4 linked regions of the Homo sapiens genome follow. The protein of the gene in region 4 purifies or fractionates together with the protein of the main gene of each other region. This does not show direct contact. Each region holds a gene or a part of one and is shown on either strand. Other genes may lie near its edges.

The links.
Region 1: the proteins of TSPAN2 (region 4) and ARL6IP5 purify together in Homo sapiens (affinity purification with mass spectrometry; 2 studies listed by BioGRID and IntAct, with this or other methods). This does not show direct contact.
Region 2: the proteins of TSPAN2 (region 4) and ALG11 purify together in Homo sapiens (affinity purification with mass spectrometry; one large-scale study listed by BioGRID and IntAct). This does not show direct contact.
Region 3: the proteins of TSPAN2 (region 4) and KDSR purify together in Homo sapiens (affinity purification with mass spectrometry; one large-scale study listed by BioGRID and IntAct). This does not show direct contact.

What each region holds. Positions count from the first base shown.
Region 1 is NC_000003.12:69,094,937-69,098,436, reverse strand, and holds part of ARL6IP5 (PRA1 family protein 3), read right to left. Parts: intron 1-3,500. UniProt on the Homo sapiens protein: Regulates intracellular concentrations of taurine and glutamate. Negatively modulates SLC1A1/EAAC1 glutamate transport activity by decreasing its affinity for glutamate in a PKC activity-dependent manner.
Region 2 is NC_000013.11:52,018,898-52,022,397, reverse strand, and holds part of ALG11 (GDP-Man:Man(3)GlcNAc(2)-PP-Dol alpha-1,2-mannosyltransferase), read right to left. Parts: intron 3,486-3,500; coding exon 3,255-3,485; intron 1-3,254. UniProt on the Homo sapiens protein: GDP-Man:Man(3)GlcNAc(2)-PP-Dol alpha-1,2-mannosyltransferase that operates in the biosynthetic pathway of dolichol-linked oligosaccharides, the glycan precursors employed in protein asparagine (N)-glycosylation.
Region 3 is NC_000018.10:63,329,207-63,332,706, forward strand, and holds part of KDSR (3-ketodihydrosphingosine reductase), read right to left. Parts: intron 2,696-3,500; coding exon 2,576-2,695; 3' UTR 1-2,575.
Region 4 is NC_000001.11:115,055,004-115,058,503, forward strand, and holds part of TSPAN2 (tetraspanin-2), read right to left. Parts: intron 2,606-3,500; coding exon 2,534-2,605; intron 1-2,533. UniProt on the Homo sapiens protein: May play a role in signalling in oligodendrocytes in the early stages of their terminal differentiation into myelin-forming glia and may also function in stabilizing the mature sheath.

The sequences.
Region 1 (3,500 bases), on a different chromosome or scaffold from region 4:
CCTGTCTCTACTAAAAATACAAAAAATTAGTTGGGCTCGGTGGCGGGAGCCTGTAATCTCAGCTACTCGGAGGCTGAGGCAGGAGAATTGCTTGAACCTGGGAGGCGGAGGTTGTAGTGAGCCGAGATGGTGCCATTGCACTCCAGCCTGGGCAACAAGAGCAAAACTATGTCTCAAAAAAAAAAAAAAAAAAAAAGCCAGGTATGGTGGCAGGCACCTGTAGTCCCAGTTACTTGGTAGGCTGAGGCAGGAGAATCACTTGAACCCGGGAGGCAGAGGGTGCAGTGAGCCGAGATTGCGCCACTGCACTCCAGCCTGGGTGACAGAGTGAGACTCTGTTTCCAAAAAAAAAAGAAATAGAAATTTCTATAATTAGTATATTATTTCATAATCAGAAATAAAATGAATATATAAAAAAGGAAATACAAAAACATAAAAGCAGCTGCTCTCCAACCCACAACCGCCGCTTGGCACAGACCAACCACAAAAGTCCATCTCTACTTGTCCCATCTCGCCAACAACATTAATGGAATTTCAGTTCATGAACCACAGCGAAGCTGTTCCTTCTCCAATCCAAATCCTGGTTTTCTGCTCATCCTCCAGATCCTCTTGTGCCAGTCTATAGCACCCCAGTGCCCCAACCTTCCCCAATACCCAGCACATGTGCTATTCTCTCTGCCCTCTTCCCCTCCCTCTTGGTTCTGTGTTACCTGGGTCTACTTGGCCTCTCTGCACTTTCTTTCTGTTTTATTTTATCTGGATTATGCCCTGTCTTCTGAGACAACCCCGGAATTGGTCTGGGAAAGAAAAAATTCCCTTATACGCCTGAGGAAGGAAAGAATCTGATGAATCAAAACCACAATCCCCTTCAGCAGGTTGTAGAGAGTGGAGAGTGAATGAAGAGGCCTTGAAACTCTTATAGATTAATATTATCTAATTCCCAGCATCACAAAAGATTCTAAGCCAGTGTGGTAGCTCATGTCTGTAATCCCAGCACTCTGGGAAGCCGAGGTGGCGGATGCATCGCTTGAGCCCAGGAGTTTGAGGCCATCCTAGGCAACATGGCGAAACCCCATCTCTCCAAAAAAAAAAAAAAACACCCCACAAAAATTAGCCAGGTGTGGCAGCACACACCTATAGTCCCCACTACTTGGAAAGCTGAGGTAGGAGGATCATCTGAGCTCAGAGGTCAAGGCTGCAGGGAGCTGTGATGGTGCCACTATACTCTAGCCTGGGTAACAGAGTGAGATCCTGTCTCAATTAAAAAATAAAAAGATACTTAGAGAAACTGAAAAATTATACCAAAGACTACAGTATAGTAGGATAAGGGGAGTTTATTTCCATTTGCTTATTTTTATTTTCATATTTTTTTCAATGGCCATGTATTCCTTGATGAATAAAAAAAATTGGTATTTAAAAATGAACAAATGAAATTGGGGAAAGGCTCCTGAATGTAAAAAACCCTTTACAAAGCCTTGACTTTGACCTATAACCTACCCAAATGTTTCTTCTGAGCCGTAAAGAAAAACAAAGATCGCCAGGTACAGTGGCTCACACCTGTAATCCCAGCACTTTGGGAGGCTGAGGCAGGTGGATCACAAGGTCAGGAGATCAAGACCATCCTGGTCAACATGGTGAAACCCCGTCTCTACTAAAAGTACAAAACTAAGCCTGGCTTGGTGGCATGTGCCTGTAATCCCAACTACTTGGGAGGCTGAGGCAGGAGAATTGCTTGAACCCGGGAGGCGGAGGCTGCAGTGAGCCGAGATTGTGCCACTGCACTCCAGCCTGGGTGACAGAGCGAGATTCCGTCTCAAAAAAAAAAAAAAAAAAAAAAAAGCAAAGCAAAACAAAGATCAAATCAACACAAAGAACTCAAATGGAGGATTGAAATTCAAGGAAATTCCTTTGCATACCCTGCAAGTAGGAGTGGGTTGGCTGGCAGCAAAGCATCAAAGGGCTCCTACTCAGTTCATTCTGGAATACTTATTAAAATAATAATTCATGAAGTGAAGCATATAACAAAATTCATGTCAAGCTGTTTTTATTTTCCTCTAGACAAGTAAAATACATATTTAGGTTGAGTGCCTAAAGTCCAGGACAAGGAACAATGAAAAATCCAGGCCTAACTCAAGCAATTCCAAATTTGTTTCACCTGTTCTGGTTGCTCATGTCCAAGAGAAAAGAACAGAGCCTGAAGTTCTATAGAACTGGTTTTAGTTCATAACCTGCCCAACAACAGTCTATAATTAGAAAGCAAGCAAGTTTCCAAGCTGGAAAAAAACTAACGAAGTTACTCTGAGCAGAAATTATTTTCTTCTGTATCTGATAAAATGTATACCACTCCAATGCCCTGGCACTTACCTGTATTTGGAACAAAAGACAGACAGACAGACAGACAGACACACACACACACACCCTCTACAGATTAACAGAAATTCTCAGAAATCTGGGAACCAGTTCTTGCCTGAGATGCTTTTTAGTCAACAGTTGGGCTGTTTATCACAGCAATCACGACAAACCCCAAAGACTTTTAGGACAAAACTTTCCATAAACATGCCACCCATCTTTCATGTAGACAGCTGCCTCTGTGGTCTGCTGGGTGGAGTTTCACTTACTGATAGTCCTAGAGTAAGAAAGAGGGCTGGGTGCGGTGGATCATAACTGTAATCCCAGAACTTTGGGAGGCTGAGGTGGGTGGATCAGCTGAAGCTAGGAGTTTGAGACCAGCCTGGCCAACATGGCGAAACCCCATCTCTACTAAAAACATAAAAATTAGCTGGGCGTGGTGGCGCATGCCTGTAATCCCAGCTGTTCAGGAGGCTGAGACACGAGAATCACTTGAACCTGGGAGGTGGAGGTTGAAGTGAGCTGAGATTGTGCCACTCCAGCGTGGGTGACAGAGCCAGACTCCGTCTCAAAAAAAAAAAAAAGAACGAGGGATGGTGAGAAAGAAGGGAGAAACAGCAGGACCTAGTTTTGCAACTCAAAAACCGTTATGTTTTTCTATTGTGAAATTAAAAATATATTAATACATATGTTTGTATATATTTTAATTATATATATTTAAAATATGAACATGTATTACCCAATTCCAATAAATAATTAATAAATCTTTCCCTATAATAGTTACACATTCTAGAGCAGTCATTTATGGTTATAAAAAGGTTTAGAATCCCATCACAGAAATTTTGTAGCAGTCTTCAAAGATGAATCAGTCTAGTCCAATTATACAGATAACTAAACTGAGGCCCAGAGAAGAAACATATCCAAAGGGATCCAGGAGAGAAACAAGAAAACAAGGGTGCCAGTTGTGGCAGCAACTCACAGTAGAACCCATTCTGTCATGTTAACCGGCTTTAAGGATTTCCCCCACACTCTAAGTAACCTACTATAACCAAGGATCATCCTGGAAAATCCCTCTGCACTCTCATTTCTCTCTGAAACAAGGTGGCTATTAGTGGGTGTGGATACAGGTCCTAAACTTCCCAACGTGATTC
Region 2 (3,500 bases), on a different chromosome or scaffold from region 4:
TCCATTTGTTTTTTCTTTCTTTTTTTAAGACAGGGTCTCGCTCTGTCTGTCGCCCAGGCGGGAGTACAGTGGCGTGATCTTGGCTTATTGTAGCCTCCACCTCTCGGGTTCAAGTGATTTTCGTGCCTCAGCCTCCTGAGAAGCTGGGATTACAGATGTGTGCCACCATGCCCAGCTAATTTTTGTATTTTTTAAGTAGAGAAGGGGTTTTGCCATGTTAACCAGGCTGGTCTCAAACTCCTGGCCTCAAGTGATCTGCCAGACTTGGCCTCCTGAAGTGCTGGGATTACAGGTGTGAGCCACTGTGCCCGGACGGGCCACAAATTCTTTGATACTTTTCTCACTGAGAGGTGGCATCTAAGTCCCCTCCCCTGGAATAACACCTGGCTCTGTGACTATTTTGACCAACAGAATATGGCAAAAGTGACATTGTGCCAGTTTCCCAACATAGACTCTAAGGGACTGGCAGCTCCTACTTCCTGTCTCCTGGAATGCTCATGCTAGGAGAAGACAGCTGTCATGTACGGAGTCCAACCAGCCCGAGATTGCTATGTTGTATGCAAGCACAACCAAGTCACATGAAGAAGCTCCTCAGTGAGAGAGATGCCCGACAGCCCCCAGCAGGTCCAGTTATCCCAGCCCAAGAACCAGAATGTGAGTGAAAAAGGCTTCAGATGCCTCCAGCCCCAGCTGCCATCTAATTGCAACAGTATGATGGAGACCAAACATGGCAGCCCCTAAACCATGTCACAGAACAGTAACCCCAAAACTGGTTTACTATAGCACTTAGAATAAAATCTAAACTAATTTCCCTGCTCACTCAAGTCCTGTGTGATCTGGAACCTGCCTCCCTCTGTCACCTCCCTTCCCATGCTCTCCTTTGCCCTCCAGGGTGCAGCCAAACTGGCATTCTTTTTTTTTAACACGCCAAGCTCCAACCAGCCTTAGGGGACTTGCAGTGGTTGTTCTCTCTACTCTGAATTCTCTTTTCTCATTTTCACTGTCTTTTCATAAGGCAGGCAGTTTAGCATGTGGTTCAGAACATGGGCTCTAGTGCCCCAGTTTTCTTCTTTGTCAAATGAGGATAATGGTAACAACTGCAAAAGGCTGTTCTGAGGATCAAGTGAGCTAACACATGTAAAGCACTTCAAACAATACCTAACATACAATCATCACGCAGTGAATGCAGCTGTTTTTGTCATTCAGATTTTGATTGTTATCAGATATTTCCCTGATCACTCTATCTAAAGTATCAAGTCACTCCTATATTACCCTATTTTAACTTTTTATATAGCACGTCTCACTATTTGATATTTTTCTTCTTTGCTTATTATCTTGTCTCTCTCAACTAAAATCAAACGTCCAGGAGAGAAGGACTTGATCGATCTTGTTCTCTTAATCTCAACCCCCAGAACAGTGCCTGACACATAGCAGGTCCCCAATAAATACTGCTAGGTCGAATGAAAAGTGCACTGTAGTATGTGTTGAGTTAGGAAAGGCTTGTAGAAATTAACTGGGGAGAAAAAGGTTATTTCAGAAGAAAAGAACACTATATAGAAAGGGAAGGACTCGAGAGAGAGCATGATGTGTTCAGGGAGCTGCTCCTTGTTCTGCATGTCAGAGTAAAGTACCTGTGAAGGAATGGGGAGGGATGAGAAACGCAATGTGGCCAGAGCAAGATGAAAAAGTATCTTCCAAGTCATATTAATGATTTGGTTTTTTTCTCCTTGTAGATGGGTTAGGAGTAATAGAGGCTGCTGGGGACTATGTGTACAGATATCATGAAACTTTACCACCGCCATCAAGAGGTAGATAATCTGGTTAGAGAAGAAAAAAGTATTATCAACGAGAGTAGGAAAAGCATCACGGAGTTGGGAATTATGAGAATTCTTTGTATTTAGGCAGTTACAGAAGATGGCAGAGCAAATACAGGGGTAGGGCCTGGAAGCTAGGATGGGCCAGGATTACAGAAAAGTATAGCTGAGGTAATTCTGTGTGAAGGCCTTGGCACTGAATGAAGGGTGTGTACCAGGAAGTAGGGTAACCATGAAGAGTAACAGTTTTCCTCATATGATAAAATAATGGAACCTACTATGCTTTTTCCTTTCTAAAAGAGAATCATAAATATTTTGGGGGTATGGGGGGTGGTGATGACGAAGCCTCAAATATTAAAAGATGTATAACACCATATTCCTTCTAACATGGTAAGTTGAGACTATCCAGCTGGTAATGATATAAAAATTTGAGTCAAATAGATACTTTCATAAAGATTATTCCTGTGTGCCACAACTGCCTGAAAGTATTCAGGCTTAAAGTGCTCTGACATACTTGGTATATTTCTGTCAATTACTTAATCTCTTCTGTATATGCTCTCCCAAGGGGACCAGTTATTCCCATTAATTTATGCCATAAAAGGGCAGATGTTTTCCCCATCCACTGTCCATTTCTTTCTTTCTTTTTTGTTTTCCCTTGAGACGGGTTCTCACTCTGTCACCCAGGCTGGAGTGCAGTCAGTGCACAATCATGGCTCACTGTAGCTTTGACTTCCCAGGCTCAGTCAATCTTTCCACCTCAGCCTCTGGAGAAGCTGGTGCGCATCACCATGCCCAGATAATTTTTTGTAGAGACAGGGTTTCGCCATGGTGCCCAGGCTGGTCTCAAACTCTTGGGCTCAAGTGATTCACCTGCCACGGCTTCACAAAGTACTGGGATTACTGGTGTGAGCCACCATGCCTGGGTTTGTCTATTTCTTTATCATAGTAACTAAAGTCAAATAAGATCATATAAGGTATGTGGGCACATGAAAGAAATATTTTCTTATTGAAGAACAGTTTAAAAAGGAATTCATTTTTTACTTTAGGTACTTTAGAAAGATGAGGCCGGGCACGGTGGCTCACACCTGTAATACCAACACTTTGGAAGGCCGAGGTGGGCGGATCACAAGGTCAGCAGATCGAGACCATCCTGGCTAACATGGTGAAACCCTGTCTCTACTAAAAATACAAAAAATTAGCCGGACGTGGTGGCGGGCACCTGTAGTCCCAGCTACTCGGGAGGCCGAGGCAGGAGAATGGCATGAACCTGGGAGGCGGAGCTTGCAGTGAGCCGACATCGTGCCACTGCACTCCAGCCTGGGTGACAGAGTAAGACTCTGTCTCAAAAAAAAAAAAAAAAAAAAAAAGATGAATTTCTGGATAATAATTTTTAAGAAATGGAACAATATAGCAAATTAGCTAAGAAAGATGGATACCTACTTTTTCTGCAGGGCTCTTAAAGCACACCATAAAACTCTTTCTCCTCCTCCACCAGCATTGCAGTATGGATGAAAAAATGCAATCACCATTTGATTTTTCCCATTTTTGCTAGTTGACACTAATTTTTTCTTTCTCTGTAGCAGCAGTCTGATTCCCCAAAGGACAATGACCAAACACACACATAAAGTTCCACATACAATGAGCCCAGGGAAGAATAATGAATAAAAAAACCTGAAATAAGAGGAC
Region 3 (3,500 bases), on a different chromosome or scaffold from region 4:
TATCCAAAACCCGCTGGGCTGGATGTGTTTCAGAATTCATAATCTTTGGGGTTTTAAAAAGGCAATATGGGCATATTTTGAATATTACAAAACACCTCCACAGCATCTAAGGGAAAACCTATAATCAAATCCATGGATATTTCTTCAGGGAAAATTAAGTCACAATGAAGTAGCATAAATATAAAGTACAATACTCTCACATCAGTTCAAGTCAGATTTTGCTGCCAAATGAATTACGGTATCAAATTTAGAAAAACACAAACCAACTTAGATTTCGAAGTTTCTTTGCTAAGGGACTGTAGCCCTTTAACATCTCTGACAAGGAAATTTCTTCTCTGACATGATGGTCTCTGCAAATCTGCTCTCATATTTCAGTGGAAATTGGGATAGGGACAATTGTCTTCTACCGCAAAACAGGGGCTCTCAACAGGTGCTCTTAAATTTATTCGGGTAGTAGATTACCATCTCACTGGAGGCAACAGGTTCTATGAGGATAATTTGAAAAAATATATTGAAATAACTATTTAATGTTATTAAATCAGACACTTTCTTGGACTAGATTCTAATATAGATCAGCAGTAGAAGGTGCCAACATTCGAGGAACATTTATGAGAAAAGAATAAAACTGAGAAACATCCAGACATTAATGCAATTGTTTTCTGCAAATTATAAAAAGCTATGATTCCATTTTAGCAGCTGCACAACGCAACTCGATATAATCTGCAAACTTTGGCTCTGTAAGACTGAAAGATTTATGAAACCATTCTGGCATCAACCCATCCTTACAAGCTGCAATGAAATCATTCCAAGCAATTTATATATTAAATAATAATTTCTTCTGTATCTATCAGTGTTTAAAATATGCTATTCTCAGATCTTAATAAAAACATGGGTTAAAGCCATAAAACATCTTATTTTTTAAAAAGTTAAGTCATTTAAAGTCAAGAGCTTCAAAAACTCAAGAGCAAAAAAAAGGTATGCTATAATTTTTAGGTCTTCAATTTTTGTATAGAGTTTTTATGTTTTTTAAGTTTTATTTTACAATTTAAGAAAGTTTCCTCTTCAAAAACAGAGGTCTTTTCTCACCGAAGTGATCTGGAATGTGCTACCGTATATGCAAGGAAGACAGGTTACAAGATCAAGGTGAAGGCAGCTCTCCTCAAGTCAGAGGAGTGTGAACAATGAGCAGGATGCAACGGGGAATGTTGGCTAAAACTCATCAGAGGCACTTGCTGTCAAAATCCACTAATGAACACAGATCCTATAACCTGGAAACAACATTCAGGGGCCAAGAGGGTTTCCAGGGCTACAGAGTTAGATGAGTGGGCTTCCTTAGCATGTGGTATAAAAATAATGTCTGCAGGTTCAGTGGGAGAGTCACATAAAGAACAGGTGATCATTTTATTTCAAAAGCAACTCTCTTCAAAATCAGCCTTGTCTTTTTTTCTTAATGAGCAAACTTTATACCATCATCAGCCTTTCCTAAAAGCTACATATATGCTCCGAGAAAAAGTCACACTTTTTAATTTTTTCATTTGCTTTAATTAATTCATGAGTTAAGTTAAAAAGTCAAGTCGAAAATTTTAGCTGGTCTTTTTTTTCCTTTTTTTTTTTTTTTACAAAAATATTACAGCAGTATAAGCAAAATTGGAAAGGAAGAGATGGGAAAAACAAGTAGATGCTAAAATGGGATAGGTGAACTTCAGGTCATCATGGTTATTGAAGGAACTGTAAATTCTTAAGCTTCTAGATTTTACCGCTCTTCAGAAAACATTTAAGGAGGCTGCCTTTCCCCATGAATGAGAAATGAAACGTTCCCTAAGCATTTGAGTCTAAAGACAAGAAAGCATTGCTTTTCCTACTGGAAAATATCTCTTTACTTCCCATTGCACTGCCCTCTCCCGTCCCCCTCGTAGCTTTATGGGATCAAAGAGAGAGAGAAGCCATGAGTTTCCACCAGCAGCAGAGTGAGTCCTGAGCACAACACAGGGCTGTCAGTGACATTCAGACTCACTGGCAATGGGTCCAACTCATCTTGAATAAAATACACAAAGAAAGAAAGAGAGAGAGAGAGAGAGACAGAGAGACAGAGAGACAGAGAGACAGAGAGACAGAGAGACAGAGAGAGAGAGAGAGAGAACCCGAGAAACCGAAAATTGTTTTTTTATGGAAGGTTTAAACAAAGTCCTCAAGATTTCTTTATGTGCCAGAAAGTACATTTCTGGACTTAATCTCTAGGGGGGCAAAAAAGAATAAATAGAAACAAATTTAATGATCATTCTGGAATCCTGTTCTTTACTTTGTTCACACGCTATTAATTCTCATACCTTCACCTCTCTACCACAAAGCCTAGAAAATCAAATGGTCTCCTATTCCATATTTGCATAGTATTAATAATACTGTCAGGAGGTGAACTTCTAGCCCCTTGCTTGCAGCCACATTCCTGAAGAGCACTGGTCCAATCTGACGTATTCGAAAACAATACATAAGTGTCTATAGGCCAAAAATTGGGTCCCATTTAGCAGCAAGCTGTTCAAATTATTTGGAAACAGTCTTCTTCCAAGGGGTAAGAAGATTAGGCAGTTTTGTCTGCATTTTCAGATTTTTCTCTCTGCATCATGCAGCGACGAACTATGCTGTCAAAACTTCCAAGGTAAAACAAAGCAATAGTGCGGAAAAGGCCCATGGTGACCACCTGCAAGATAAAGAGAGAGCTTTTAGTGCATCCAACGGTACAAGACTATTTCAAGGTACCTAGGTCTCTAACAAACAGTTTCTAAGACAAATCTTCTAGTCTGCTCTAAGGATGAATATAATGAAAACTCTGTAAATGTCAGTAAGCTGTGAGAACAGAATGTGTGTGCTCTGCACCGCTGGACAGCCCAGATACATAACAAAATATTTGTCCAATTAATAAATTCAAACCATAAGCAGAATAAAATATATATTGCTTGCAGTCTTAGGGTTATAATAGCTTTAAAAAGACCCACTGCAGCATCTCAAATAGCCAAACTACAATCAAGGCTTTTTTGGTTTGCAATTTATGTTCTGAGCATGAAAGCGAGACCCTATACTAGGTGCTGTGAACACTGTGGTGAGAGACACAGTCCCTGCCCTCAATGAGCTTATTCTCAGGCTGGAAAGACAAGTAAAATTGAAACTACTGCCTCAGGGTTGAGACCCGTGATTACTGATATCCTGTTGCTCAGGATGGAGTGCAGTGGCATGAACGCGGCTCACTATAGCTTTGACCTCCCAAACTCAAAGGATTCTCCTGCCTCATCCTCCCAAGCAGCTGGGACCATAGGCATGAGTCCCCGTGCATAAGAGAATGGAAAAATCAGGCCGGGCGCGGTGGCTCACGCCTGTAATCCCAGCACTTTGGGAGGCCGAGGCGGGTGGATCACGAGGTCAGGAGATTGAGACCATCCTGGCTAACACGGTGAAACCCCATCTCTACTAAAAATACAAAAAAATTATCCGCGTGTGGCGGTGTGCGC
Region 4 (3,500 bases):
AAATAATAATAAAAGACAGTTAACTTCATATCCTGCTTTGGGTCTTTCAGCTCCTCAGGAAGCCTGCACTGCCAGTTACTTTTTTTCCTTCCTATACATTCAGCCTCTCCTTATCCATTGACATTTCTACTTATCCTATCACCATGCTCAGTTCTTCAATCAAAACAAACAAAACAACACTCGAGACTGTCCTCCTCTAGTTCTGCCATTAGGCCCTCCTTCCCTTCATTGCCAGCTTCTTTTTGTAAAAAACAAATGTACAAAAGGTATATTGGCTTTAGTCACAAAAGGAATACATGCTTCTTGTAGAAATCTGGAAAAGAGATTTTTTTTTTTTTAAAAAGAAATGTCTGTATTCTCACCATAAAAGGTAATAAATTTGTTGGTGATACTTACACACACAAACACACCTACACCCTTAGGTCATTCTTTATATTCAACAGTGAGCTTTTTAAACTTAATATTACAACTTTAAAAATGCCTTGTTTCACTAAAAATTTCTTTGAAATCATGATTATGATGATTATTTTTTTTTTTGGAGACAGAGTCTCGCTCTCTCACCCAGGCTGTAGTGCAGTGGCGCGATCTCGGCTCACTGCAACCTCTGCCTCCCAGGTTCAAGTGATTCTCCTGCCTCAGCTTTCTGAGTAGCTGGGATCACAGGCACATGCCACCACGCCTGGCTAATTTTTGTATTTTTAGTAGACGGGATTTCACCATGTTGCCCAGGGTGGTCTTAAACTCCTGAGCTCAGGCAATCTGCCTGCCTCTGCCTCCCTAAGTGCTAGGATTACAGGTGAAATCATGATTCTTAATGGTGGTAAAACATTTCATCATATGAATATACTACAATTTATCCAAACAATCCCCTATTGCCACATATTAAGGGTCTGTCCAGTGTTTTGTTCTTATGAATAACATGTAATGAGCATGATTTGCACAAAAACGTCTGTCTGCATTTCTGATTCCTTTTCCTTAGAATAAACTCCGAGAAGTGGAATTTCTGGATAGAAGGGCATAAACATACTTAATCCTCTAGTCTTACATAGTCATACTGACCTTTAAAACTATTTACTAATTTCTCTGAAAATGCTCACGACATCACGTTTACCAAAACTGTGTATTATTGTTAAGGGAAAGGAAAAACACTTGGTCAATTTCATAGATTAAACAACAGCATCTCTTCATTTTAATTTGCTATTGATTTTAAATATTACTTTTAATTTTCTATATTTTCTATATGTTTAATGGTAATTTGGACTTTGACTTTTGTAAACTTTCTTTCTGTGTCCTTGGCTCAAATCGAAACTTCTTGAAAGGATGCTCTCTCTCCTCACATCTCGCTCTCTGAAACCTGGGCTCTGTCCTCAATCCATCCCTCACAGCACGTCACCAGTTGGTTCCTTGCATGCTAAATCCTGCCAGCTTTTCAGCAGTTATTAGTAGACCTTCTTAGGCTTTCAGTTCCCCACACAAACCATGTCATTTCTGCCTCTGTGTTGTTGCTTACGCTGGTCTCTCGGCACGCAGGCCTCCCCCTCCCGCTTTCTGCCCAATGCTTGCATAATTACTTTCCATTCTTGAAGATTTAGCTGAGACATCATTACCTCTGTCAGCCTTCCCCATCCCCCAGCCTCTCGCCTCTCCTAAGTGCGTTTCCCTCTGTGCTTTCCGAGCACGTTGCACATTCCATGCATTCCTAATCACTGGACCGTATGGACTTCATGTTCATCCCTCCTATCAGACTGCAATGCAAGCTCCTTGTGAGTAGGAACTTTTTCTCCTTCTCCTTTGCATCCACAGTGCCGAACATAAGGTAGGCAGCTGATCAATACTGAATTGCCCTCAACAGCAGCACCTGGGCCTGGTGACCATTCCCTCCCCTTCCCGTGCTGTCTCCTCACTTGTGTCTGGCCGCCCCTCCCAGTTTCCTTCTTTGGCATCTCTTCTTTTGCCCACCCTTAAATTGTCCCCCAAGGATCTATCCTCATCCTTCTTTTCTTCCAAGTCTAATGGATCAAATCCGTATTTATAGCTTTAAGTTTCCCATCAAGTGCTGACACTCAGACCTCTCTCCTGAGCCACAAACCAGATTTTCCAACTGCCTACTGGATATTTCCATTTGGAAGTGCCACTGGCTCCTCAAAATCACCATGTTAAACACAAAGCTCATTTTCTTTTCTCCACAATTGGCTCCTTTTCCTCTCTCCCTCAGCTCCATAAATGACACCATCATCTATGTAGGTGGTGAAGCCAAAAACCCAGTAATGGATTCTCCTCTCTTCTCTGGTCACCACTCCTGTAGTTGTCACTTTCTAAAGGGCCCTCTTTAACATCTCTTGCTAACAACAAGGACAGCAGCCTTCCCAATGGGTCTCTCAGCTCAACGCTATTCATTTTCCATCAATCCTCTATGCTGCCACTAGAGCAAATTCAGTAAAATGCAGATCCCATCCGAGATTCTACCTTCAATGGCTTCCTAAGCTAGCAGCATGATACTACAGGTAGAGTAAGAACCTTGGTAGAAGCTTACCTTGTGTCCTAGAAGCTCCTTTGGGCATGTAGGTTGGACCTGTTCGGAGCTTTCTTTTCCACAGCACTGAAACTAGAGAGTCAGAAAAGAGACTTCAGGACCAGGCGGGAGGAGTAGCAGCTACAAGTCTGGGCACCCTGCTAAGGACTGGGGTGCCGAGGCGGCAAAGCAGCTCCGAGGCCCAGTCACTGCAACCCAGACTGCTATTTCTGGAAGGAGAGTGAAGAATCACATAATCATGCTGGCAAAACAAGAAAATGACTTCGCTAAAGCCATCTGAGTTTATGATGGGAAGTGACTCAAGGCAACCCAAACAAGGCAAGAAGCTAATTGACAGTGTCTGTGTAAATTGCTACTTTTTAGAAAGGGGTTGGGGCTTTAGATTCCTTCTTTCAGACTGGGAGTCATTTAACCTGCTGAGGAGCTCAAGTTTTATGAGCTGCAGAAGGACTCATTAGCTGGGAATAGTCTGGGGAAGAGGGGAGAAGTGGCTGCAGGAAATTCCAGGGTCCAAAAGACCAGATTTGAAGATTGGCCAGCAAACAGGTGTCCTGCTTAGGCTAGCTGGCCCTTTAAGACAAAAGAACCTGTGTGCTGCTTCAGGTCCTGGCGGCAGCTGAGGTGAAACCGTATAAATGTATAAATGGTGGCCACTTTCCAAGACATACTTGTCCTAGACAAGAACTAGGTACCTGAAAACACCTGGCCCAGGAATTCACAGCTACTTCTTCATATCACAGTGTCTAAAAAATCAGAATAACTCTGGCCTGGCCCATCTCCTCTGTAAGCCTTCTGTGATTAACTGCATGTAGCTCTGAGCACTCCACGGACAGCACAGTCCCACTGAATGTTCCAGAAGGGAGTGTAGCCATCTCCTGTGACCCTTCATTCTACAAATGAGGGAGCTGCGTGGGTATCAGGGAGGCCAAGTAACTTGCTCAAGGTCACAAGGCTGTTGAATGGTAGA